2 separate regions of the Homo sapiens genome follow, and region 2 is linked to region 1. Evidence: fine-mapped expression QTL. A gene starts in region 1. The other region holds a variant in brackets. All regions are shown on one strand. Distances are from middle to middle.

Region 1 (12,314 bases):
ACAGTGTAAGGAAATAAGAAGGTTGCACTGAGTGAAGACCCGAGGTAGAGAGGAAGGACAGGCAGGAAAGAGAAGCCAGCACACAGAACCTGGCTTTGTTGGCACACTTGGAGAGATTCAAAGCTGGGGTCTCCAGACCAAGTTCAGTGACTGCCAGAACTGCAGGTGTCTGGGCAAAAGAAGAACCCAGAGTCTCATGCTGGGAGGTGGAGGCTGCCCCAGACAACCTCTGCTACCGTGATGGCCAAGGCAGAAGATGGTGGCTGAAGCAGCTCTGGCTGAGCACAGACATCCAGGGATCCTTCTTGCCTGGCACTGTGGTTTTTCCAGATGCCTTCAGCTCCATCTTTGGGGTGAAGGGGAAACACCAGGTGTGCAGAGCAGTTTCTTACAGGTGGGGAACTGTAAGCCTTCATTAATGACCACACCCTAAACTGTGCTCACCTGAATCCCAAAAGAGAGACCCTTCCTCAGCTTGAGTGGAGACAGCCAGTTCCCCTGTTCCTGGCAAGGGAGGGCTTTGGATGCCAGCACTGCCATCCTGGCACAGAGCCCAGAGCTGCAAGCTGGCAGTGCCTGGGGGAGACTCCAATGTAAGTTAGTTGGAAGGAAGCCCAAGTCTCCTCAAGAAGGCGTATTTTAAGCTGGAGCTTTCGGGGCACGGTGAGCGGGAATGTGGGAGACTAATGTCTGAATTTTTCTTTCTTTCTTTTTTTTTTTTTTTTTTTAGACGGAGTCTCGCTCTGTCACCCAGGCTAGAATGCAGTGGCGCGATCTCGGCTCACTGCAAGCTCCGCCTCCCGGGTTCACACCATTCTCCTGCCTCAGCCTCCCAAGTAGCTGGGACTACAGGCGCCCACCACCAAGCCTAGCTAATTTTTTGTACTTTTTAGTAGAGACAGGGTTTCACTGTGTTAGTCAGGATGGTCTCGATCTCCTGACCTCCTGATCCACCCGCCTTGGCCTCCCAAAGTGCTGGGATTACAGGTGTGAGCCACCACGCCTGGCCCTGAATTTCTCTCTTTTTTTTTTTTTTTTTTTTGAGATGGAGTCTCACTCTATCGCCCATGCTGGAGTACAGCAACCTCCACCTCTTGGGTTCAAGCGATTCTTGTGTCTCAGCTTCCCCAGTAGCTGGGATTATAGGTGCACGCCACCATGCCCGGCTAATTTTTGTATTTTTAGTAGAGACGGGGTTTCACCATATTGGCCAGGCTGATCTCAAACTCCTGACCTCAAGTGATCTGCCCGCCTTGGCCTCCCCAAGTGCTGAGATTACAGGCGTGAGCCACTGTGCCCGGCCCTAATGTCTGAATTTCCTTCCCAACGCACTCAAGCAAAAAGGGCTGTGTCCAGTGCCACATGCGGGCTCCTTCCAGCACTACCATCCAGTTCCCTGCCGAGAGAGGGCACGCATGGGCTTGGCCTTCCTAGAGCACCCCAGAAGCACTGGCTGGAGTTGGCCTTCAGGACACTCTGCCGGATGACCCCTCAAAGTGTCCCCAGCTCCAGAATTTGGTTCTTTTCCTCACGGTCGGGAAAAATCCTCCAGTACGTAGGTCAGAAGAGCTACGCAGAGCTCAGGTCAGCTCTGTTTCCAGGGCGAGATTGCTCAACCCTTCTCCCTCCGCCCACAGGCCTTATCTCTGGCATCAACCCAGCTCCCCATTCCTCCAAGGGACGGACTCCTCCCTCCCCCCACAGGGACAAACTCCTCTGAGTCTGCAGAACCAGAATGAGAACACAGAAGGCTGGACTTACTGCTAACCAAGTGCAACCCTGACCACTCTGACTTCTGACTTCTTCACTTCGAACCCAATCCAAACGTAGGGGCGTGGGGTGGGGGAGAGTGAAAGGGAGAGGCCAACATCAAACACCTTTTGGCCACACCTGCGCACAGACAGTCCGGGCCGCAGAAATCAATCAGTCACTCCAAAGGGGTGGAAGCCCTGGGCCACTGCCAACCCAAGGCCCTTCTGGAAAAGCTCTGGACTTGTTAAGAAGGGTTGGCCAGGGCTGGGTGCAGTGGTTTACGCCTGTAATCCCGGCTCTTGGGGAGGCCGAGGTGGGTGGATTGCCTGAGTTCAGGAGTTCGCGACCGGCCTGGGCAACACAGTGAAACCCTGTTTCTACTAAAATACAAAAAAAAATTAGCCGGGCGTGGTGGCATGCACCTATAATCCCAGCTACTGCAGAGGCTGAGGCAGGAGAATTGCTTGAACCCGGGAGGTGGAGGATGCAGTGAGCCAAGATTGTGCCACTGCACTCCAGCCTGGGCAACAGAGCAAAGCTCTGTCTCCAAAAAAAAAAAAAAAAAAAAGGGTTGGCCAGGTGCAGTGGCTCATACCTGTATGCCCAGCACTTTGAGAGGCCGAGGTGGGGGAAGATCCCTTGAGCTCAGGAGTTCAAGACCAGCCTGGGCAACATGGTGAAACCCCACCTCTACAAAAAATACAAAAAATGGCTGGGCGTGGTGGTGGGCGCCAGTAGTCCCAGCTACTCAGGAGGCTGAAGTGGGAGGATAGCTTGAGCCCAGGAGGTCCAGCCTGCAGTGAGCCTTGACTATGACGCTGCACCACAACCTGGGTGACAGAGCAAGACCTGGTCTCAAAAAATTAATAAATAAAATAAAAATTATTTTTAAAATCAAAAGACTGGTGTAAGATTCCTCTCCCAGGTCAACACTCACTCCCCTGACCTTTATACATGAGACCTCCCTTTGCTTCTGACTCCTTGGTCTCTGGTTCTGTGAGGTGCTGTCGGGTTCCAGAGGCAGCAGCACAGTGGAGGCAGGGTACAGAGGATGGGGACAAGCACGGTGGGTGGGCAAGGGAAAGAGAGAAACGAGGGGAAAAGAGAAGAGGAATCCAAAAAGAGAGAGGCAGAAACCCCAGAAAATGGAGAATCATTCACAGCACAGGCCTAGGCTGTACAGCAGAGCAGGAGCAAGCTGCCCTCTGTGTGCAGGGACCCTAGGACTTCAGGGAGATTTCAGAGGGGAGGCGCTGAGACTCACCCCAGAACCACCGCCCATATGATCACAGCGGGCCCCTCCTAGTCCCTGCAGGGGTCCACCAGGATGCCTGGGAATCCACTTGGGATCTCCCCAAATTCACTGAACACCCCTTGTGGGAAGGAGCAGCTGTCTTCAAGGAGTGGAGAGGCAAAGTCCAAGTTCAGAGGAGATAAGCCACCCCACTAATCAGTCAGTCACATGTGCAGCTCACACAGGGCAGTTGATGAGAGCAGGAACCGGCAGGGCACCCCCGCATTCAGTAGGCACTGGCTTCTCAGCAGAGATAGAGCCTCAGGAGATCCTGGTGGATGCCCTGTTATTGCCCCAGGAGCCCCTGGGGCTGCCAGGGGCTCTCTTAGGGCCTGGCTCAGTCCCAGCCAACTCCCGATTTCTGGGAGAAATCAGAAATCCGCAGCTCAGCAATCCCTTCCTTTGTGGCCTGTTCTTTGTTCTCTTAAAATTCAGTCCACCCTGCTGGTGGTCCCTCCTCCACCCTAGCCTCAGAAGCGGGCGGGGGCTGAGGGAGTTATTGGAAACCCAGACTGCCAAAGAAGTCGCCTTGCAGGAGGCCCCTGTCACCGGCCCCTCATTATTTACACTCGCTGGATGGGACATTTCTCTGGTACAGATGGCTGCTGGGGTTCGGACGAGAGAGAGATTTTCCCTCCAGCACCCTGGACCCTCAGGGGAGGGCAGGGGGCTTCGCAGCGACGGGGGCTCCCAAGGACTCCACCCGGATCCAGCTGCTCAGCTATCTGGGCAAACAGTGGGCACCGGGCACACAGTAAGGGATGTGGGAGCCGGTCAGATTGCAAGGGGTGGGAGTCGTGGAGAGAGAGAAGTTCCAGAGGCAACGAGAAAAGAAAAGGCATTGTATTTCCCCTCCATTCTCCCAGGGAGAAAAAGAAAACTTCCAAAGCCGAGGCCGCAGTCACTGGGAAAACACAGGGAACCTGGTTTGAGTTAGCAGCGAGCACCCCTCCCCCAGTCACACACACACACACACACACACACACACACACACACACACACACACACACGCACTTCAGTCCTCTCCCAGGAAGCTGGCTCAGCCTCAGCCCCGGCTCCCGCCCAGCTCTCCAGCCCTCCCGGCCGGGGCACTCACCGGCTGACGGGATCCCCGCGGGCAGGATGGCTCCTGGGGGACGCGCCGGGGGCAGGGGGCAGTTTTGTAACCCCGGCTGGGGGCGCTCCGGAGAGGGGGCGGGGCCAGGGACGGCCGATCCGCGCGCACCCGCCCCAAGCGGGCGATTAAATCATTAACCGACCGCTCCCGCCTGCGATCCCGCTGAGCGCGCTGAGCTCGGGGCGCACTAGCCCAGGAGCGGCCGTCTCCCCGGCTCCAAGGGGGCGGGTGGCTCGACTGCCCTCCCCCCGCACCCCGCCAGGAGGCGCCTCGGCCTCCCGGGCTTCCGAGGGAGCGGGCGGGGCGGGAGCCTGGCGGGGGAGGGAAGGGTTCGCGGGGCGGGAGTAGGGGAAAGGAGGACCATTTGTTCCTTCGGCCATTCCCTTCCAGACAGCTCCTTCCCTCTGGCTTCCCGGCCGGGTGACATTGGGTGGCGTGTGCTGCAGTGTGTGTACGAGAGCGAGATGTGTACACGCCTCTGCCCGTACAGGCGGAGAATTCGGTTCTTATTCATGGAGAACTCCGGGCGCACACACGCCCCCCTCGCGGAGATCGCGGGCCGCGCGCCGCCGATTGCTGCGCTCCTGCCCACACCGACACACACCCCATTCCTGGGAAGGGGGAGGCCCTTTAAAACCGGCCCCCAACCCCCTCAGCGGCACCCTTGGCCAGGGCCGGGAGTTCCAGCGTGGAGAGAGGAAATGGAGTCCCGGCAACGCTGCGCCCGGCTCCCTGCCACCTCCTCCTCCACACATCCCGCTCTGCCAGGACACTAGGTGCGCAGCTTAGGGTCCCAGGCACCGCGGTGGGCGCGGTGAAAAGCGCGAGCGCCGAGAAGTGGGGGCTCCGCGCCCTTCTCCCCGCGCCGCGGCCTCGCATCCCCAGCTTCGATCCTCTCTGCCCCACAGGGGGACTCGAGACCCCCAAGCCCACCCAGGGCACCCAGCGCGAAGGCGGCTACCACAGACAGAGGCGGTTGCCCGTCGCCTACCTCGGTCCCCGGAGACCCGAGCTCTGGGCCGGCTGCGCTGTCCCCTTCGTGGGCTCCGCGCGGCGGAGGGGCTGGCGGCCCCTGTCAGCGCCGGCGTTTGTTTCCCTCTGGCTCTCGGGCTTTCAGGGCTGGGAGCCTCCAGGACACTCCCCTTCCAGGCTCCGCCCGCGCCCGCCCCGCGCAACCCTCCCCGCGCACCCCTCTGCGCTGATGTCACGGCGCCGCAGCAGCCAATGGCCGTCGGGAACCTCTGCCCGACTGCTCGGCCTCCTCGGTTCAAACTGAAAGCCTGAGACTTTCCCAACTCCGTATGGGGCAGCCTGGGCCCGCCCGGCTTCCGGGAGACACTCCCGCCCCAGCCTGCGCTCCGGCCGCGAACCCCCACTGGGGCCCCCAGGGCCAGGGGCGCGTCTCCCTCCGGGGGCCTGGCGCGAGGCTCTTTTGAGGCTCTTCCCCATTCGAGCCGGGGCAAGAAACCAAGAACTCCAGCCCGGGTGGCGTTCCTCGTTCCTGCTCCCTCCCGGACCTGCTAACCACCTGGCTGCAGTACTGTCGGGAGATGGGGCAGGAGGGCTGGCGCCACCAGCTTCGTGGGTGCCATCCCAGACTCTCGCTGTAAACGAGGGAGCGGGGAGGAGCCGGCCAGCCCCGAGGCCAGGCTTGGACTGGGCGTCAGAAATGTTTCTACAGGGTGACAGCCCTTGAGCTCCCCGCATCCCCGTCTGTGCCTTTGCCTCCTAAGTATCAGCTGAGGCTAAATTTGCACCAGGTGAACGTCAAGGAGGATCAACTCCTGAGTCCCAGAGCCTGAATCCAAGTCCCAGGCCTTGGACTCTATTCTTTTTAGAGGAATAGTTTCAGTTGAAATGATCATTATCAAGGTAGAATGCCAGCTGCGAAGTAGTCAACTAAAGTGGACAAGGCGCAAAGTGAAAAGTTCCCTTGCCTCTAGCTGAACCCCACCCTCGGTTTTTAAAGGAAGTGAGGGTGAAGGCCCCAGACTTTCCCCATGGCTGCGAGGTCCCTAAGCCCTCAGGAACATTCTGCTTTCTGGGGACAGCACATTTCCGTTTCCCTCTGCAGTGCGACAGCAACCAGCTCTTGAGAGCTAATGGTTTGGCCACTCCATCCTGCTGTGAAAATTAAGTTCTGGGCTGGGCGCAGTGGCTCATGCCTGTAATCCTAGCATTTTGGGAGGCCAAGGCAGGTGGGGGGTCACTTGAGGTCAGAAGTTTGAGACCAGCCTGGCCAACATGGCGAAACCCCATCTCTACCAAAAATACAAAAATTAGTCGGGCATGGTGGTGGGCGCCTGTAATCCCAGCTACCCAGGAGGCTGAGGCGGGACAATCGCTTGAACCTGGGAGGTGGAGGTTGCAGTGAGCCGAGATCGCGCTATTGCACTCTAGCCTGGGTGACAGAGGTAGACTCCATCTCAAAAAAAAAAATAAATGAATAATAAGTAAAATCAAATTCTGAACTGGACATCTGGAGGGAAAGGTAGGGTTTGGAGCCACTTGGGAGGCAGACACTGTGGATTCAAACCCTGGCGGGGTTATCATGGATGTAAACCAAAAAGTGACTAAGGCAGATCTCAATCAAATAGAGGTTTAGTTAGCCAAGGTTGAGGATCCACCGGGGAAAAATCACCTTTTTTCCAAAAAGGTTTTGGGAACTTCTGTATTTAAAAGAGAAAAAGCAAGCAGGAAAGGAAAAGAAGAGGGAGAGAGGGAGGAAAGGCATTGAGGTCACAAGCGTGTGAGGCTCTGATTTAGTGTCTGTAAGTCTACATTTTACATGTGAAAGGGAATAGAAGAAAAAGTCAATGATGCATTGTCTCCTACTCAGTACGTCTAAGGGGAGCAAAGGAAACCCTGTGTCAACAGGGTTGTGAAACTGCAGCTATCTGGGAACAAAAGGAAAGCAGCTTCTGTGGTTTCCAAGCTTAACGTCCCCCCCAGCCCCGCCCCTTTTTTTTTTTTGGAGACAGGGTCTTGCTCTGTTGCCCAGGCTGGAGTGCAGTGCTGCAATCGTAGCTCACTATAGCCTTGGCCTCCTGGGCTCAAGCGATCCTCCCACCTCACCCTCCTGAGTAGCTGAGACTACAGGTGTGCGCCACCATGCCCAGCTACATATTTTGTACTTTTTCTTTTGTAGAGACAGGGTTCTGTCATGTTGCCCAGGCTGGTCTCAAACTCCTGAGCTCAAGCAATCCACCCACCTCAACCTCCAAAAGTGCTGGGATTAAACTTTCCCTTTGACATAGTGAATTTGGGGTCCCGAGATTCTATTCCCTTTCACATGGGGAAGTCGCTAATTCCCACCTCTGACCCTTAGCTAGCCTGGCTGTCCTTATGTGTCCAAAGAGCACAGGACCCCTCTGCTAGCCTCGTCTGGAGGGTGTAAAGAGGAATGAGATATCAGGTGTGAAAGCGCTTTATGACTAGAAAGCAACCAGAATGGAGGTGATTGCTGTCATCATGACCTAGTGCCAAAGGTGTCCTCAAAAGAAGTAGGAGCTGCAACAGGACTGTGGGTAAGGCTCGCTGGATAGAGGTTTGGAGACGCCTCTGGATTGGAATTCTAGCTCTGCCATTTATGAGCTGACAAGTTATCCACCAGCTTCCCCATCTGTAAAGTGAGAACAGCAATCTCTACCTTCCCCTATTGGGGTGAATATTAAAAGAGATCACTTAGGCTGGGCGCGGTGGCTCATGCCTGTAATCCCACTGCTTTGGGAGGCTGAAGCCAGTGGATCGCTTGAGCCCAGGAGTTCAAGAGAAACCTGGCAACCTGGCGAAACCCCATCTCTACAAAAGTATACAAAAATCAGCAAGGTGTGGTGGTGCATGCCTGTAGTCCCAGCTATTTGGGAGGCTGAGATGGGAGAATCCACTTGAGCCTGCAGGTTGAGGCTGCAGTAAGCCAAGATCATGCCACTGCATTCTAGCCTGGGTAACAGAGGGAGACCCTGTCTCAAAAAACAAACAAACAAACAAACAAAGGCACCTGGCCATTTGCTGGGCATATGCAGGCCCTCAGTGGGTCTCCTTCTACCACATTGCTTCCAGGTGGAAGTCCTCCCTGGTTCCTGGCGTTCCAGGACCTCTTTCTCCTGAAATCATAGCTTAAGTTAAAAACAAAAACAAAAAAAAAACGTTTCTTATTTTCTCTGAGACATCTCCCTCTCCCCATCTCTTTCCTTCCATTTTAAATGAAGTATTTCGGTTTTCTTAGGGCTAGCTGTTAGTAATCTGTTTTCCTTTTCCCAATTATCATCCATATCTATTAAGCACACCTCCGGGACAAAGTCTTTAGGTCCCTTTGTAATTCTGCTCCTTACCCAAATTCAGGCTCCTTCCACAAACATTTAACAACAGTGGAGGCTTGCCTTTGGGGACAAAGACAACGAAGCCCAGTCCCTGCCCTCAGGACGCCTAGAGTAGAAACAAACTGCTTCAGGGAGGGGCTCCGTAGATGCTTCTAGACTGCATCCTAGCCCTCTGAGGGAAGATGTGATTAGAAGATCATTTTCTTTGATGGTGGGAATCCCAGACCTGTGGATTTCTCTCCGAAGGATCCACTGAAGCAAGTTTTGCTCCAACCCGTTAGGCTAGAGCTGTCTATGAGTAACCAGAGGAAATTAACAAAATAAAAAATCTGAGGCTTGAATACATACCTACTTGAAATTTCTGGCAAGCTCTAAGCCCCTGACTTTGGAGAGGGATTTGAGGTCTTAACTGCACCCTTGGTGTAACTTGACCTGTAAGCCTTTAGGCCTAGGCGTGTGTCTCTGCCTGTCTGGGGCCGCTGGGGCCTGCCTGCCTCTGGGACTTGGGCATGCATGATCCTTGCAGCTTCATGGACTTGCCCCTCCCTAATATCCACCCCCAACCCCCAACACATATTAGGTAGATGCAAAAGTTATTGCGGTTTTTGCCATTACTTTCAATGGCAAAAACCGCAATTACTTTTTTGCACCAACATACCACATCCCAGTGTTTGTTAACATGGAGTTCTGGGCATTTTAGTTCATGTTATTTTGTCCCAGCTCTAAGAGGTTAATTAGTCCTATTTCCTTTTTTTTTTTTTTTTTTTTTTTTTGAGACGGAGTCTCGCTCTGTTGCCCAGGCTGGAGTGCAGTGGCATGATCTCGGCTCACTGCAAGCTCTGCCTCCCAGGTTCACGCCATTCTCCTGCCTCGGCCTCCTGAGTAGCTGGGACTACAGGCGCCCGCCACCACGCCCGGGTAATTCTTTGTATTTTTAGTAGAGACGGGATTTCACCACGTTAGCCAGGATGGTCTCGATCTCCTGACCTCGTGATTTGCCCGCCTCGGCCTCCCGAAGTGCAAGATCACAGGCGTGAGCCACCGCGCCCGGCCAATTTGTCCTATTTCCTTGGAGGGGCTGGAAGTTCCACTCATTCCAGTCTGGTGTTTGTCCTAAAGTATGACTCTGGGCAGGTCATTTCTCTTCGTGAAATAAGCTATCTCCCCAAGCAAGAACACTACAACTTTCTATGTCTATTCCCCTTTTTTTTTTTTTTTTTTTTTTTTTTTTTTAGGATTCTTGCTCTGACGCCCAGGCTGCAGTGCAGTCCGCAATCTCAGTTCACTGCAGCCTCCGCCTCCTGGGTTCAAGCGATTCTCCTGCCTCAGCCTCCTGAGTAGCTGGGATTATAGGTGCCCACTACCAATTAGCCAATTCCTGGCTAATTTTTTTTTTTTTTTAGTAGAGGCAGGTTTTACCCTGTTGGCCAGGCTGATCTCGAACTCTTGACTTCAAGTGATCTTCCCTCCTCTGCCTCCCAAAGGACTGGGATTATAGGTGTGAGCCACCGTGCCTGGCTTTCAAGTCTATTTTGAGCCCCCCTTCCCCTATTGAGGTGAGACAAGATGGTCCTGGACTGAACCTCAAGGTGCCACCATGGCTTGATGTCAGCACAGTTTGGGTGGAGCCTTGGTGATCCAGGTCAGGAGCCCATCAGCTGGGGTGGCCTGGCGCTGGGCTGTCCACTCCCATGCCTGCAAGAGAGAGGCTCTTTCACGCCTTGCTTCCCCGTTCTTGGGAACCACCTGGAGCCCTTTCATGGGGCTGGGGCAACCTGCTGAGCAGCTGGGAAAATCCTGAAAATACCAAACTACTGGCAGAGTGCCTGGGGCTCCAGACAAGACTCCTCCACCATGGTGGGGAAAAGTACCTGCATCTGGGGGCTCTTTCTGCCCCAGGTTTCAGGGGCATAACCCTGATTTTCTGGGGGAGTTCACGCACATCAGGGGGCTGGGGCAGCCAGTGCATGCCTAGAGAGTAAAGCAATACGATTTCCCCTTGGCCTCCCTGGGGACAGGGTGGTGTTCAGTTCATGTCTGAACCTCCAGCGTGGGTTGGCACACAGTGCATTTGCTAGACAAATGAATGAGCAGAGTTCACAGCCCACATCCCTCCCTTCTTCCATTTGCAACCCCAGCCTCAACTAAGCTCTGTGTGGTCACTTTTTCCCTGAAATGAGCTGTACTGGCCCACAGGGTCACACATCGTCCCAGAACGGCAGCTCCCAAGGGTTCACAGCACAAATTGGCCCAGGAGGTGAGGGAGGCCGCTGTGTGTCAGAGGTCCCCTGGCCCAGAGAGACGCCGTTCACAAGGCTGGGGGTTCTCTGGAGGCAGGAGGTGAAAATAGGATTGAACTAGGCTCAAAGATGGGATGAGGTGTGTGAAGGGGCAGTAGCAGAGCAGAGGGGTCATGAAATTTACAGGAAATGAGTCCAGATGTGGGGCTTAGAACACCTGGGTTGTACTTGTTGTGTGACCTTGGAGGAGTCGTCTTATCGCTTTGAGTCACACCTGTAAGGGGGGCATGGTAATAATTCAGGCCATAGGAGGCTATCAGAAGAATGGAAGGAGATAAGGCGTGTGATCTTGCTTCCTGAAAAGTCTAAAGGAAGGCCCTAGCTACTATTAGGTTGTTACTAAGTTGAGCTTTAGGGTTCTGGGTACTGTGGCTCCCTCCTTCCCTCTGCAGGGAAAAGACAGACAGCCAGGCCTCCCCACACCCCACTCAGGAATCTGTCACTGTGCATTGTCAGGTTATTAACAGGCCACTCCTGACCACTGAGCTGGGACATTTCCAAGAAAGCAGGAGATGATATTAAATTTCTTGTTCATCCAGCAGGGAGAAAAGAGTGGGCAAGAAAGATACAGCAAAAGCTCTGGGCTGCTGAGAAAATTAGCAGAGAAGTCAACTAAAGTCAGTAAAACTTGCAAGCAGGGGCCCTGGGAAGAATGTTTCCTGTGACCCCCGGATTTCTGAAGCCCAGAGCTTCACCCACTGTGACCCGTGGCAAAAATGGGGGAGCCCAACCACGCCTCTGAGCAGAGGATTCCACCTGGTGCTCCAAAGGCCTGAGAGTCCTGGTTAGAAACACGGGCCCTAGGGCCAGATGATACTGGCTTTGAATCTAAATTGTCACTGTGATCTGAGAAGTCCCTTGAGCTCCCCCAGGGCTTGGTCTCATTTGCACAATGGAGACTACAAGAGATCCCACTCATGCTGATGGCGTGGGGTTGGTGGCTAATGCAGGTCAGAACTCATCCCCAAGCTAGGACCACACCAAGGTGTCACTACTTGGATGCTGGCTGGTCTCACAGTTAAAAGGACCTAAGTTTGGGAGGCTGAGGCGCGTGGATCACTTGAGGTCAGGAGTTGGCGGGCGCCTGTAATCTCAGGTACTAGGGAGACTGAGGCAGGAGAATCGCTTGAACCTGGGAGGCGGAAGTTGCAGTGAGACAAGATCACACCACTGCACTCCAGCCTGGGTGACAGAGTGAGACCCTATCTCTGAAAAAATAAATAAATAAAGAAATAGGACCGAAGTTAGACTTTCTGGAGCAAGCTTCATTCTGACATTCATCCTTGCCACAGAATGGGGCCATCCCTGTTAGTGTTTCTGAGAACTGAGCTAACAGAAAACAAAAATTAACAGCATTATCTGCAAGAAGCAGTCCTGGGCTTCTGATAAAGGACTCAGGCTCTGGTGGGCTCACCCAGAGGGGCCCCCCTTATGTCATTGTCTCTGGGGAAGGGTGGGCGGGGACCCAGCTCTGCTGGAGAACAGCCGGTGATAGCCAGAAGCCCTCAGGGTTTCTAGAGGGATGGAAA
Region 2 (12,314 bases), 21 kb before region 1:
CTCATCGCCATGGTAACCACCCTCCCCCTCCTCGGGGTCCCACTCCTCCTTGTCCATGATGCTGAGGACGTCACCCAGCATGGAGGGCCCCAGGTCGATGTGGAAGGACATGATGGACTCCGCATGCTTCAGCCCGTACGTGGCCTTGGGCACGACAGGCAGATCTGTCAGATCCCCAAAGGCCTGCTCATCGAGGAGGGGGTCAGGGGAATGTGGACCCGCGGCCCCATTCCGACGGGGCACTGCCTCCTCCGTGCCCGCCTCCTCATCGCCGCCCTCCCCGTCATTGGCCTTCTTCACGGGGCTGGATGACAGGCTCTTGGGCAGCTTACTGGTGCCCTTCTCCGCGGCCTCCTTCTCATTGAGCTGGGGCAGGGACATGGCATTCTTGACAAACAGGGCCGAGTCCCGCAGGGAGCCCAGCATGTCACGCTGCTCCCGCTCCCCCCTGGTCACCGACTGTGACCGCTTGCTGCCCCGGAACTTCCTGGACAGGAGACTGCGTTTGGAAGATGAAGAAGAGGGCTGTTCGTCCAAGGACTCGCCGTCGGGCTCGCCAGCCTTGCTATTGAGGAAGGAGGTGTCCCCAAAGGCGTCTCCGGCCCGGCCAACGTGCATGGTGTGGCGGAAGTCGCCCAGCGGGGCGCTGATCATCTCGGCCGTGAGGTCCGCTCGGGAACGGCGCTTGGAGTGCACCGAGCTGGACACCAGTTGCTTGAGGATTGGCATCTTGCTGGATGGGCGGGGAGGTGGGCCCTCCCGAGGTAGCCGGCAGGTCTGGGGTCAGATCTGAAGTCCAAGTCCAGTGGGCAGAGGGGGACGCAATGAGGAGATCATAAGGCTGCAAGCAGAGAATGAGAGGCAAAGGATTAACGCGGGCTGGCCACACGGCACAAAAGCCTCTTTGCCAGGGGACTGTCATTTAAACCCCAGCGCTCCTACCAAAGTTAAATGCTGTGAAATAAGCCAGCAATCCATGGTATAACCCTGCCTGTTTCTTCATCCGCAGGCATTCAGAGTAGAGGAGTGATTTTGCAAATCTGGTTAGAGTTCCAGTAGCCTCGGACACACTTTCCCTGAAACTTGAGAGAGACAGAACCTTTCTTGCAGAAGACAATGCCTCCCCTGCCCCTGCAAGCCAGGATGCTGCCAGAGTAAACATGACCACATTTAAGGACGCGAAGGTAAATCCAGCAATTCCAGGCAGCAAGCCAGGGAAGAGATGGAGTCTATGAGTTGGCTCCTATGAACAGTCAGCCTGGAGATGTGCTGTAAGTTCTTCCTGCTGTCTAACCTCGATCCCTGTGGAGTTAGTGGACACCCCACCCTGAGTCCTGGTCCTCAGAGAGAGAAGGGAAAGGACAGGACGGGCTCAGGGAGACAGAGGCTGACCAGCTCCTCCCCCTGCGTGGGCGGCACAGTCCTCTTTCTGAATCAGAACTGGGGTGGGGCTGCTGGGACCCACAGAACCAGCTCCCCAGCCTTTCAGCCTTCGCTTGGTATCCCATAAATGAGGATCCCGCCTGTGACGTCTCCACTGTGGAGCCCCAGGCTCTTTGCTGAGGGTCCACCTTCTGGTGTCTCGGGGAGATCAAGATTGGGCAACTTCCAGTTTCTTTCATCATTAGGGGAGTGGGAGGCAGGGACTGGACCCTAAATGACTTCGTCCCCCCAGGATCTGCAGACTGATTCCTAGGTGATTCACCAGAAATCCAAAAAACAGCAGAGGTAGAGCCCAGGAGCCTGGAGGCACCACTCTCACAGCTCCTGACAAGGGCCAAGTTGAAGTTCAGCATTGGGGCCAAACCAGCCCCTCTCTTCCCTAGAGGGGCTTGCCCCAAATACTAAGCCCAGCAGAGCTGGGCAGGTTGGGGAGAGATGGGTGCAGGGATTTAACAAAGTATGGTGGGTGAGAGGTGATGCTTGGACACCAGGTACCTGCCTGCCTCCCAGTCCAGCCAGCAGCACAGTTCTGAGAGGCACCCCCAGTCCAGACCCACTCTTCCCACTGCAAAACTCAGATGCTGGGTGCTTCCTCCGCATGCCTGCCGCTGCGTCACACAAGCCCACCACACCCCACCTGGCCCCTGACATCAGCCTGACAGGTCTCCCTGTTGGTCTCCCTCCTGTCCATCCTTCACCTCTTGGCTAAAACAAAACCCATCCACATGACGCCCTACCCAGTGCAGACCCCTTGATCCAATGACTAGTCCCCACCTCGCTCCTCAGTGTCCCCTACTTTTGTACCCTGATCTATCCCCTGAGCTGCAGTGGATACAAACAGTTCCCCAATGCAACCCCTGCCACACCCAGCATCCTTCAGGGCTCAGCTGGGACACATCACTACTCCCAGGAAACCTTTAGCCACCACCTGCCCCCCACGGCACTTTGGGAGATGTCCCCTCTTCCAGCAGATACTGGCTACATTATTCTGTCCCTGCTGGCTGGACTCTCATCTTCCCACTGCAGTACAAACTTCTAGGGTTTTGAGGCAGATTCTCGCCCTGTCCCCCAGGCCGGAGTGTAATGGCATGATCTTGGCTCACTGCAACTTCTGCCTCCCGGGTTCTAGCGATTCTCTTGCCTCAGTCTCCTGAGTAGCTGAGATTTACAGGTGCACACCACCACGTCCAGCTATTTTTTTTTTTTTTTTGTAATTTTAGTAGAGATAGAGATGGAGTTTCACCATGTTGGTCAGGCTGGTCTCGAACTCCTGACCTCAGGTGATCCACCCACCTCGGCCTCCCAGTGCTGGGATCAGGACGTGGGATCAGCGTGAGCCACCGCGCCTGGTCCATCCAGAGGGTTTTAACAGGTCTGTTTACCACCGAGTCTGGTCCAGCAGGGTGTGACACATGGTCCGCCTCCAACCGCCTCCAAGCACCCACTGGAAGTCCAGCACCTCCCTCCTCTCCTCCCCTTCTGCCCACAGCCTGGCTCCAGGGCTCCCAGCCTGACCTCTCTGCATCCTCACCCCCATCCGCTTCCCTGTTCTCTCAAGCCTCTGCTGCCCAGCCTCATGGCTTCCCCCACCAGCAATGTCCCCCCTCCCAGTGCCCACGCCATACCGCTTATCATTCCAGCAAACACAAAGTTCTCTCGGGCAGGGAGGGGGAGCCAGGCACCTGGCAGACTTGCCACACAGTGACGTGGGCGAGGACGTGAGGGATGCCTTGAGATGATACTCTACTCTGGGTCATAGGTCAGCTCTCTCTCCTCCCTACCCTTAGGAAAGTGACCTTCCCCTAACTCTAACTTGGATTATCTCTGGGCCCCACCCTCCTGCCCCACCTCAACCTCTAAACAATTAGACATTGAACCGCTAGACCAAAGGTCAGCAAACACTTTTTGCAAAGGGCCAGAGAGTAAATATTCTCGGCCTTGTGGCTGATAGGGTTTTTGTCACAGCTACTCAACTGTCTTCTTAGTATAAAACTAGCCGTTGGCCGGGCACAGTGGGTCACAACTGTAATCCCAGCACTCTGGGAGGCTACGGCAGGAGGATCAGTTGAGCCCAGGAGTTCCAGACCAGCCTGGGCAACACGGTGAGACCCCATCTCTACACAAAATCAAAAAAAGAAAGAAAGGAGCCATAGCAACATGTAAACAAGTAGGCATGGCTATGTTCCAATAACATTTTATTTACAGACAACTTCTGGGTTGGTGAGCAGATCGAGGTGCCAGGAAGGTGGTGCGTGCCCTGCCCCCCACCCCAACACTTGACCCCACGCATCCTCATGCAGCTCTTCCGTTTGGCTGTTCCTGAGTCGTATCTTTTGTAATAAACCAGTAAAAGAAAAAAAACCACCAAAAAGCCACATCTTTATTTACAAAAGCAAACGCAGGCTGGGTTTGGCCCATGGACTGTAGTTTGCTGACTCCTGAATATCATATATGACCCTCTTGGCCAGCCATGGGCTCCTAGGCAAAACTCTGAAGAAAACAGGAAGGGAGGAAGGGAGGGAGGGAGGAAGGGAGGGAGGAAGGGAGGGGAAGGAAAGGAAGGAAGGAAAGGAAATAAGGAAAGAAAAAAAGAAAGAGAGAAAGAAAAAGAAAGGAAAGAAGGAAAGGAAAGGAAGAGAAGAAAGGAAGAAAGGAAAAGAAAAGCAAGGAAGGAAAGAAAGAGAAAAAGAAGCAGCAGAAGAAAAGAAAAAGAAAAAGAGAAGGTAGACTCTGCCTCAGTCACGTTGGGCATAGAAGGGAAAAAGGCCAAGCTTCAAACGAACTCTCGTTCCTGGCAAATCCTTCAGGCTTCTACTGCCACCAGCAGGGACACCAGTCAGGAACGGAGGGGACCCCATCTTCCACCTGCCTGCACCCCGACTCCTGGCTCTACGCACAGCATCCAGGAATCTCAAAGAACTGGAGGGGATATTCAGTGCAGCACTTTCACTTTATGGATGAGGAAACAAGTTTATTGAAGGAAAGTGATTTATCCAGGTTTTTAGCCCAAAGCAACAGAGCTGGGCTAGAAACTGGGTCTTTGAGTCCAGAGCTCTCTCCGCTCCACTCCAGGCCCTTCTCCAGCTCTGGCGGCGGCATTGCTGGTCAGTGACCACCGACCACTGAGTGCTCCTCCCCACTGCTGGCCGGCAGGGTACAGAGAAGGGGGTACCCAACAGCTGCTTCAAGAAGGTTCTTGTGTAATCCTAGAGCAGGTTCCACACTGTTGCTATTTGGGCCAGATAATTTCTCATCGGGAGGTGGACCTGCCCTGTGCACTGTAGGATATTCAGCAGCATCCCTGGTCTCTACCCATTAGATGCCAGTAGCATCCACCCCCCAGTCACAACAAGCAAAACTGTCTCAAGATATTGCCCAATGTCCCCCAGGAGGCAAAACTGCCCCAGTTGAGAAACAGCAGCCTTGAGTGAGAACACACAGGTGAAGATAGAGCAGGTATGCTCACCAGGTAAACAAC[A/G]AAGACAGAGAAGCAGGGAGGCGGGTGTGGATGGTCAGAACCGGGTGAGAACATGGCGGCACGAGCCCCCAGAGCTGCGTTAAGGGTTTCAACGCCAAGGCAGGAACCCCCAGACCCTGTGAGTGATGTCAGGTCCTGTGGTTTCCCGATCTTATACGCTCATTAGAGAGGAAAGAAAGGGAAACCACAGACCCGGCTCCCCAGGACTCACCAGAGAAGCTGCAGGTCACTGTGGCTGCCCAAAGGGACCAAATATCCTGGCCATGATGGCTACAGGGGAGGACAGCTCCCCGCATCCCATTAGCCACACCACCCAGCACATCCTTGCGGGTAGAACTATTGAGGTAGGTCAGAGGGGACAGCAGGGAAACTCAGCTGAAATCACGGCCATCCTGGGCTAGCCCTGGGGTCCCCAGGATCTTGTTCAACCCCACACCCCAGAAAGACAGGGACAGGTCTACCCAGTGCTGCCTGCTGCCACGGTCTCGCTTCCTGGGGGGTTGGGAACGAGACTTTGTGGCTTGTAGAAAGCCATCTTCAATAACCAGCAAGGAAGGGTCCTGAGAGAGTTGGGGCCTAGAGGGAGTCACGCATCTGTCCCACTGCCCCAGCGAGGAGGGGGCTGCAGTACCTGGCAGTCCACACTGGGGATGAGGCCTGGGTGTCTGGAGCTCAGACTAGACAGGCCACCCAGCAGGATTGAGGGTCAGCAACAGCTTGGTTTCACCAGCCTTGAGTGACCTTGAGTCACTCTGAGCTTCTAACAGAGAACAGTTTGGAGGTGACGAGCTGGATCATAGAGTTTAAGAGAAAGTAGGTGGTGGGAGTCTCGCCAGAGGCCTGGGCAGGTCCTGGGGGCAGCTATGGTTTGGGAGGCCACAGGGCATTGTGGCTTTGGGCGGGGCTTTCAGAAGCATGGTGACTCAGCTCTGGGGAAGTGGCTAAAATAGGCTGCCCAACGTGGGGCAGGCACTCCCCATAGCCTGCCTTGGGCGGGACACCCCCACCCCACCCCAGAAACCACATCCCACTTTCTTGGCAGGGAGAGGGAAAATGGATCACAGCTCACAGCCCTCCCTAGCTCTCCTGAGCCTCCGGAGGAACAGATTCCTCTACCCTCAGCCCACTGACCACGGAACCTTCCTTTAAGGTGGGAACGAGGAGCCCTCCCCAGAAGGTCAGGCCCCTGCTTGGGTCACAGCAACCACACCTTTAGTTCAGCCCTGTTCCTGAGACTACGGAAGACCACCCTTGCCTGGACCCCTCGCCTATCCTCCCTGGCCCTCCCAGCTTGGCCAGCCCAGCAGACCCAGAGCAGAAGGACAGACGGGACCAACACTTCTCACTCCAAGTGACCGGGCAGTGGCCTGTCCCTGGCAGCTTGGCTTGAGGCAGGCGCCAGACCTGAGCTCTCATGGGGCAGCTAGGCAGGCCTCGCTCTCTGAAGCTGCCCTGCGGTTCACCCCGGTATACAGGGTACACAACATGCCTCAATGCCCACTGCCACTGCCTCCGCCACTGCTGCTGGGCAGCATGCCCTCTGCAGGGCCTTCCCCTAGCTGTTCTAACCAACCACCCGATGCCAGGTCCAGGCAATGTGGCCGAATAGCAGAGGGCTTTTAGTGCACGATGACTTTAGTTGTGACCTGGATCGGCTACAAGAGGCTTTGTTCCATTACTCATCATCCAGTCACTCACTCCATGACTTCCTGCAGACCCACTGATATTCACAAACTCTTCTAGGCCCTGGAGATAGAGCAGTGAAAATAGCACGCTGTTTTCCCAGGGCACGTGTGTAGTGTGAGTGTGGGGGGTGGGGGTGGGGAATGGAGGTGTAAACCTATAAATAAAATAAATGGTATCTCATATTCCTCAGTATAAGGAGGGAAAGGGGTGGTATGAGTGGGTGTGGGAGTCAGGGGGTCTGGGGGAGGCCCCTCTTGAGGAAGGAGCATCATGAGTTGAGAACCAAATGATGAGAAGGAACCAGCCGGGTCAGAAGCGACCCAGGCAGAGGGAACGGCGCGTGCAAACGCCGGGGTATAGGAACAGGCTTGTGGCATTTATGGAATAGAATAAAAATCCATGCAGCCAGGGCCCAGGTTACATAGAGCCCTCCCTACCAGGCCACATAAAGAGTTCTGTTTTGTTTTTAGTTTTTATTACAGGCACCTGCCATCATGCCCAGTTAATTTTTGAATTTTTTGGAGAGACCAGGTTTCACCATGTTGGCTAGGCTGGTCCTGAACTCCTGACTTCAGGTGATCTGCCCGCCTCGGCCTCCCAAAGTGCTGGGATTACAGGAGCCACTGCTCCTGGCCGATTTTTTTATGTTTTTAGAGATGGGGTTTCACCACGTCGGCCAGGCTGGTCTCGAACTCCTGGCATCAAGCAATCCACCCGCCTTGGCCTCCCAAAGTTCTGGCATTACAGGCATGAGCCACCGCACCCAGCCCAGGTAAGGAGTTTGGAGGTCATTATAGGTGTACAAGGAAACCGGCGGCTGTTTGTAAGCAGGCGAGTGATTCAATCTGTGTATCTGGAAGCTCCCGGAGGTCCTGGCATTGGAGGAATGAAGGAGGGGAGCTGGAATTCAGTCAGGAGGCTGTTGCAGAAATGCAGGTCAAAGAGGATGGAGACCAGGATGTGGGTCTGGCGAAGGGGGACACAGTGGGAGACATTTAGGCCATGTTTTGGAGGTAGAGACACCCGGGATTGTGGAGGGCCCAGACCAGGGAGGAGAGAAAAGACAGGATCAAATGGGACTCCAGGCCTTCCAGGGGCAGCCTCTGGTCCTGGCCATCCTTTCCCAGGTTTTGCCTGGCAGGCCACGGCCCCTTCTCACAGGAGGGGCTGACATCCTACCCCTAGGCGGAACTTCACTTTGCCGAAACACAGGTGGCATTCTGCTACACAAGGCTTGTCAGATGGAACAGCACGCTGGAGGGGGTTGTGCAAGAGGCTCACTGGGACATGGGCCACAACTCTAAGAGGTGAGGGACTCTGGCTTTAGTCACCAGAGAAAAATCCAGTACTTTCTGGAACACTCACCAGCCTTACCCTGCAAAGATAGGAAAGCACAGGGAAGGCGGAAGACTGTGTTTCATTCAAACTGTGGCAGGGCTGAGGGCAGCTAAGTGAATGGGCGAGAACAGTGACCGCTTAGATACACGTGGTTACATGTTCCAGGCAGGACTTCAATGCCGACTGTGTTGTGATTTTAGCTGACTTTAGTATTCTTGGGGATCTTTTAACTCCTTCATGTGCCCTGCTCAAAAGCCCTTGCATCTGGAAGTGTGCTGCGTGCGCAAGGAGGTTAAGGCTCACTGCTGTAATATTCTGAGCCTAAGTAACCACAATCAAAAACCAAACACAAGGCCGGGCGTGGTGGCTCACACCTGTAATCCCAGCACTTTGGGAGGCTGAGGCGGGTGGATCTCCTGAGGTCAGGAGTTCGAGACCAGCCTGGCCAACATGGTGAAACCCCATCTCCACTAAAAACACAGAAATCAGCCAGGCATGGTGGTGTGCACCTGTAGTCCCAGTTATTCAGGAGGCTGAGGCAGGGAGAATCGCTTGAACCCAGGAGGTGGAGGTTGCAGTGAGCTGAGATCGCGCCACTGCATTCCAGCCTGGGTGACAGAGCAAGATTCTGTCTCAAAAAAAAACAAACAAAGAAACAAAAAAACAAACCCAGGATGGGAACATGAAATGTCACCATCAGGACTCCTGTACCATTTATGTATCTGTGTCAAATATCTCCTTAAAATACCTGGGTGTGGAGGGATCATACTTTCAAGATGGAAAGACCAAATTAAGGGACTTGCCCTAGGTCATGGATTGAAGCCAGAGTTTAATTCCCACCCCAGGGCTCCATTCACTTAAACAGCAATGTACTATCAAAAGTAGGGGGCATCACAGGACAAACACTGAATATGTAATTTGTGTATATACATATATGTGTATATATCTACACACATATATATTTTTATAGGTTATATTCATGTCTATTGTCATTCCACGCATTAGTAAGTTTTAGTTTACACACACACACCACACACACACACGCATGTGCACAAGTTTTGGTGTGTTCTTTCTAAATCCCAGTGGATTTTCTTTTTCTTTCTTTTTTTTGAGACAGAGTTTCGCTCTTGTTGCCCATGCTGGAATGTAATGGTGCACTCTTGGCTCACTGTACCTCCACCTCCCAGATTCAGGCAATTCTCCTGCCTTAGCCTCCTGAGTAGCTGGGATTACAGGCACCTGCTACCACACCCGGCTAATTTTTGTATTTTTTTTAGTAGAGACGGGGTTCCACCATGTTGGCCAAGTTGGTCTCAAACTCCTGACCTCAGGGGATCCACCTGCCTCGGCCTCCCAAAGTGCTGGGATTACAGGCTTGAGCCATTGCGCCTGGCCCCAGTGGATTTTCTTATGTACTCCTTGGGGTGCTAAAATGCAGCACCCACTGTGTCACATGACTCCCACTGAGATTGAGAGATGGTAGACATCTGGGAGAGGATCCAACCCAGTGGTCTTGATTAGGCTGTTGGGACCAGGAGAGGTGACTTGCCAAAGGCCACAGAACTCACAAGGGAGCCGGGCGGTGCTGGAGCCCAAGTCTCTTGACTCCCACCCCAAAGATCTTCCCCAGATAACACCTCAATGGGCTCACCGCCAGGCACTAGGACAACCTTCTGATGTTTGCTACCATCTTGCCCAAATTAAGAGCTGGGAAAGAGAAGAGGGAAGGACCTTCCTCCCACTGAGCAATTGGTACTAGGTGCCACCAGGCAGGGGGAACATTACAAAACTCTGATCCAAGAGCTGCTCAGAGTCAAAATGGTCCCAGGGTGGGGTGGTCTTGCGGTACATGAAACTCCAGCAAAATTTCTTCAAATAATGGCTTTAAAATAAATGATGGTTTTGGCCAGGTGTGGTGGCTCATGCCTGTAATCCCAGCACTTTGGGAGGCTGAGGTAGGTGGATCACCTGAGGTCAGGAGTTTGAGACCAGCCTGGCCAACATGGTGAAACCCCATCTCAACTAATAATACAAAGAAATTAGCCAGGCATGGTGGCGGGTGCCTGTAATCCCAGCTACTAGGGAGGCTGAGGCAGGAGAACTGCTTGAACCTGGGAGGCAGAGGTTGCAGCACACTGAGATCATGCCATTGCACTCCAGCCCAGGCGACAAGAGTGAAACTCCATCTCCAAAAAAAAAAAAAAAAGAATGATGGTTTTAAAATGAATATGATTCAGTTTCCTCAAATAATGGCTTTAAAATGAATGTGATTTAAATGAATATGATTTACCTCCTAGAACTTAACCCTGTGGAACTATTTCAAAGGCGAAAAAAGTCACACACGTATTTGTTGAAGCCTTATTCATAATAGCGAAAGACTGGAGACAGGCTAGTCGCAGTGGCTCACGCCTGTAATCCCAGCACTTTGGGAGGCCGAGGCGGGTGGACCACGACGTCAGGAGTTTGAGACCAGCCTGACCAATATGGCGAAACCCTGTCTCTACTAAAAATACAAAAAAAAAAAAAATTAAAAAATACATAAAAAAATAAAATTAGCTGGGCCTGGTGGTGTGCGCCTGTAATCCCAGCTACTCAGGAGGCTGAGGCAGGAGAATGGCTTGAACCTGGGAGGCAGAGGTTGCAGTGAGCCGAGATCACGCCATTGCACTCCAGCCTGGGCAACAGAGGGAGACTCCATCTCAAAAAAAAAAAAAAAAAAAGACTGGAGACAGACAGCCTAATGCCCAGTGATGGAGGAATGGAATGGCTAAGAAAGCTGGGAGCCATTAACTCAGAGCACCATTCAGCAGTCATGGAAAGTGGGAACTATGAAGACCATAGACAACATGGACCAAATGTTTACCAAATGGCATTAAATGGAAGTGCAAACAAAAGGCAGAACAGAGGCCAAGGCGAAGGTCAGGAGTGCAGTACCAGCCTGGCCAACTTGTTGAAACCCCGTCTCTACTTTTAAAAAAATACACGGCTGGGCACGGTGGCTCACGCCTGTAATCCCAGCACTTTGGGAGGCCGAGGAGGGTGGATCACAAGGTCAGGAGATAGAGACCATCCTGGCTAACATGGTGAAACCCCATCTCTACTAAAATACAAAAAATTAGCCAGGCGCGGTGAGGGGGGCCTGTAGTCCCAGCTACTCGGGAGGCTGAGGCAGGAGAATGGCGTGAACCCGGGAGGCGGAGCTTGCAGTGAGCCGAGATAGCGCCACTGCAGTCTGGCCTGGGCGAAAGAGCAAGACTCCGTCTCAAAAAAAAAAAAAAAAAAAAAAAATACACAAGGCCAAGCGCCGTGGCTCACACCTGTAATCCCAGCACTTTGGGAGGCCGAGGTGGGCAGATCACCCGAGGTCAGGAGTTCAAGACCAGCCTGGCCAACATGGTGAAACCCCATCTCTACTAAAAATACAAAAATTAGCCAGGTGTGGTGGCAGGCGCCTGTAATCCCAGCTACTTGGGAGGCGGAGGCAGGAGAATCACTTGAACCCGGGAGGCGGAGGTTGCTGTGAGCCAAGGTCGCGCCATTGCACTCCAGCCTGGGGGACAAGAGCAAGACTTCGTCTCCAAAAAAAAAAAAAAACACACACACACAAATTAGCCAGGTGTTGTGGCGCGTGCCTGTAATCCCAGCTACACGGGAGGCTGAGGCAGGAGAATCTCTTGAACCCGGGAGGCGGAGGTTGCAGTGAGCTGAGATCACGCCATTGCACTCCAGCTTGGGCAATAGAGTGAGACTCTGTCTCAAAAAAAATAAATAAAAATTTAAAATAAATAGAAAAACAGGCAGAACATATACTTGTTTATGTATAGTGGTTACAACTCTACACAAATATGCATCTGTGAATAAAGACTAAAAGGGCACATGGAGAAATTAAGAAGTTATGTTAGCCTTGAGAGGAAAACAGCCTCTTTTTCTTTTTGTTTATTTATTTATTTATTTATTTTTGAGATGGAGTTTTGCTCTATCGCCCAGGCTGGAGTGTAGTGGCACCATCTCAGCTCACTGCAACCTCCAACTCCTAGGTTCAAGCAATTCTCCTGCCTCAGCCTCCCAAGTAGCTGGGATTACAGGTGCACACCATGACGGCCAGTTAATTTTTATATTTTCAGTAAAGACGGGGTTTCCCCATGTTGACCAGGCTGGTCTTGAACTCCTGACCTCAAGCAATCCACCCGCCTCAGCCTCCCAAAGTGCTGGGATTACAGGTGTGAGCCACCGCACCTGGCCTTTTTCTTTTTAAAACAAACAAACAAACAACAACAGCGAAAAAAAAAAAAAAACCCAAAGTATCAAAGGCTTAAAGAAAAAGCATTCATTTCAAAACCAGCTTAAGACTATCTAGTTCTCTGGGTTC

Evidence for each region.
Region 2: its variant is fine-mapped to the expression of CDC42EP4 in whole blood (TOPMed, PIP above 0.99).

The regions. Positions count from the first base shown.
Region 1 is chr17:73,306,739-73,319,052 of GRCh38, forward strand. CDC42EP4 (CDC42 effector protein 4) reads right to left here and starts at 5,263. Exons shown (of 2, transcript NM_012121.5): 1 at 5,155-5,263. RefSeq lists silencers at 4,012-4,141, 4,152-4,701, 5,152-5,411, 5,482-5,641 and an enhancer at 11,209-11,961.
Region 2 is chr17:73,285,772-73,298,085 of GRCh38, forward strand. It overlaps CDC42EP4 (CDC42 effector protein 4), which reads right to left. Exons shown (of 2, transcript NM_012121.5): 2 at 1-841. The coding sequence starts at 729. Among named protein-coding and RNA genes, the nearest start is that of CDC42EP4, 20 kb to the right of the region's middle. RefSeq lists enhancers at 644-1,198, 5,155-5,374, 5,665-5,744, 5,719-6,013, 5,997-6,878 and 2 more. The variant A/G (reference allele first, on the strand shown) is at 4,922.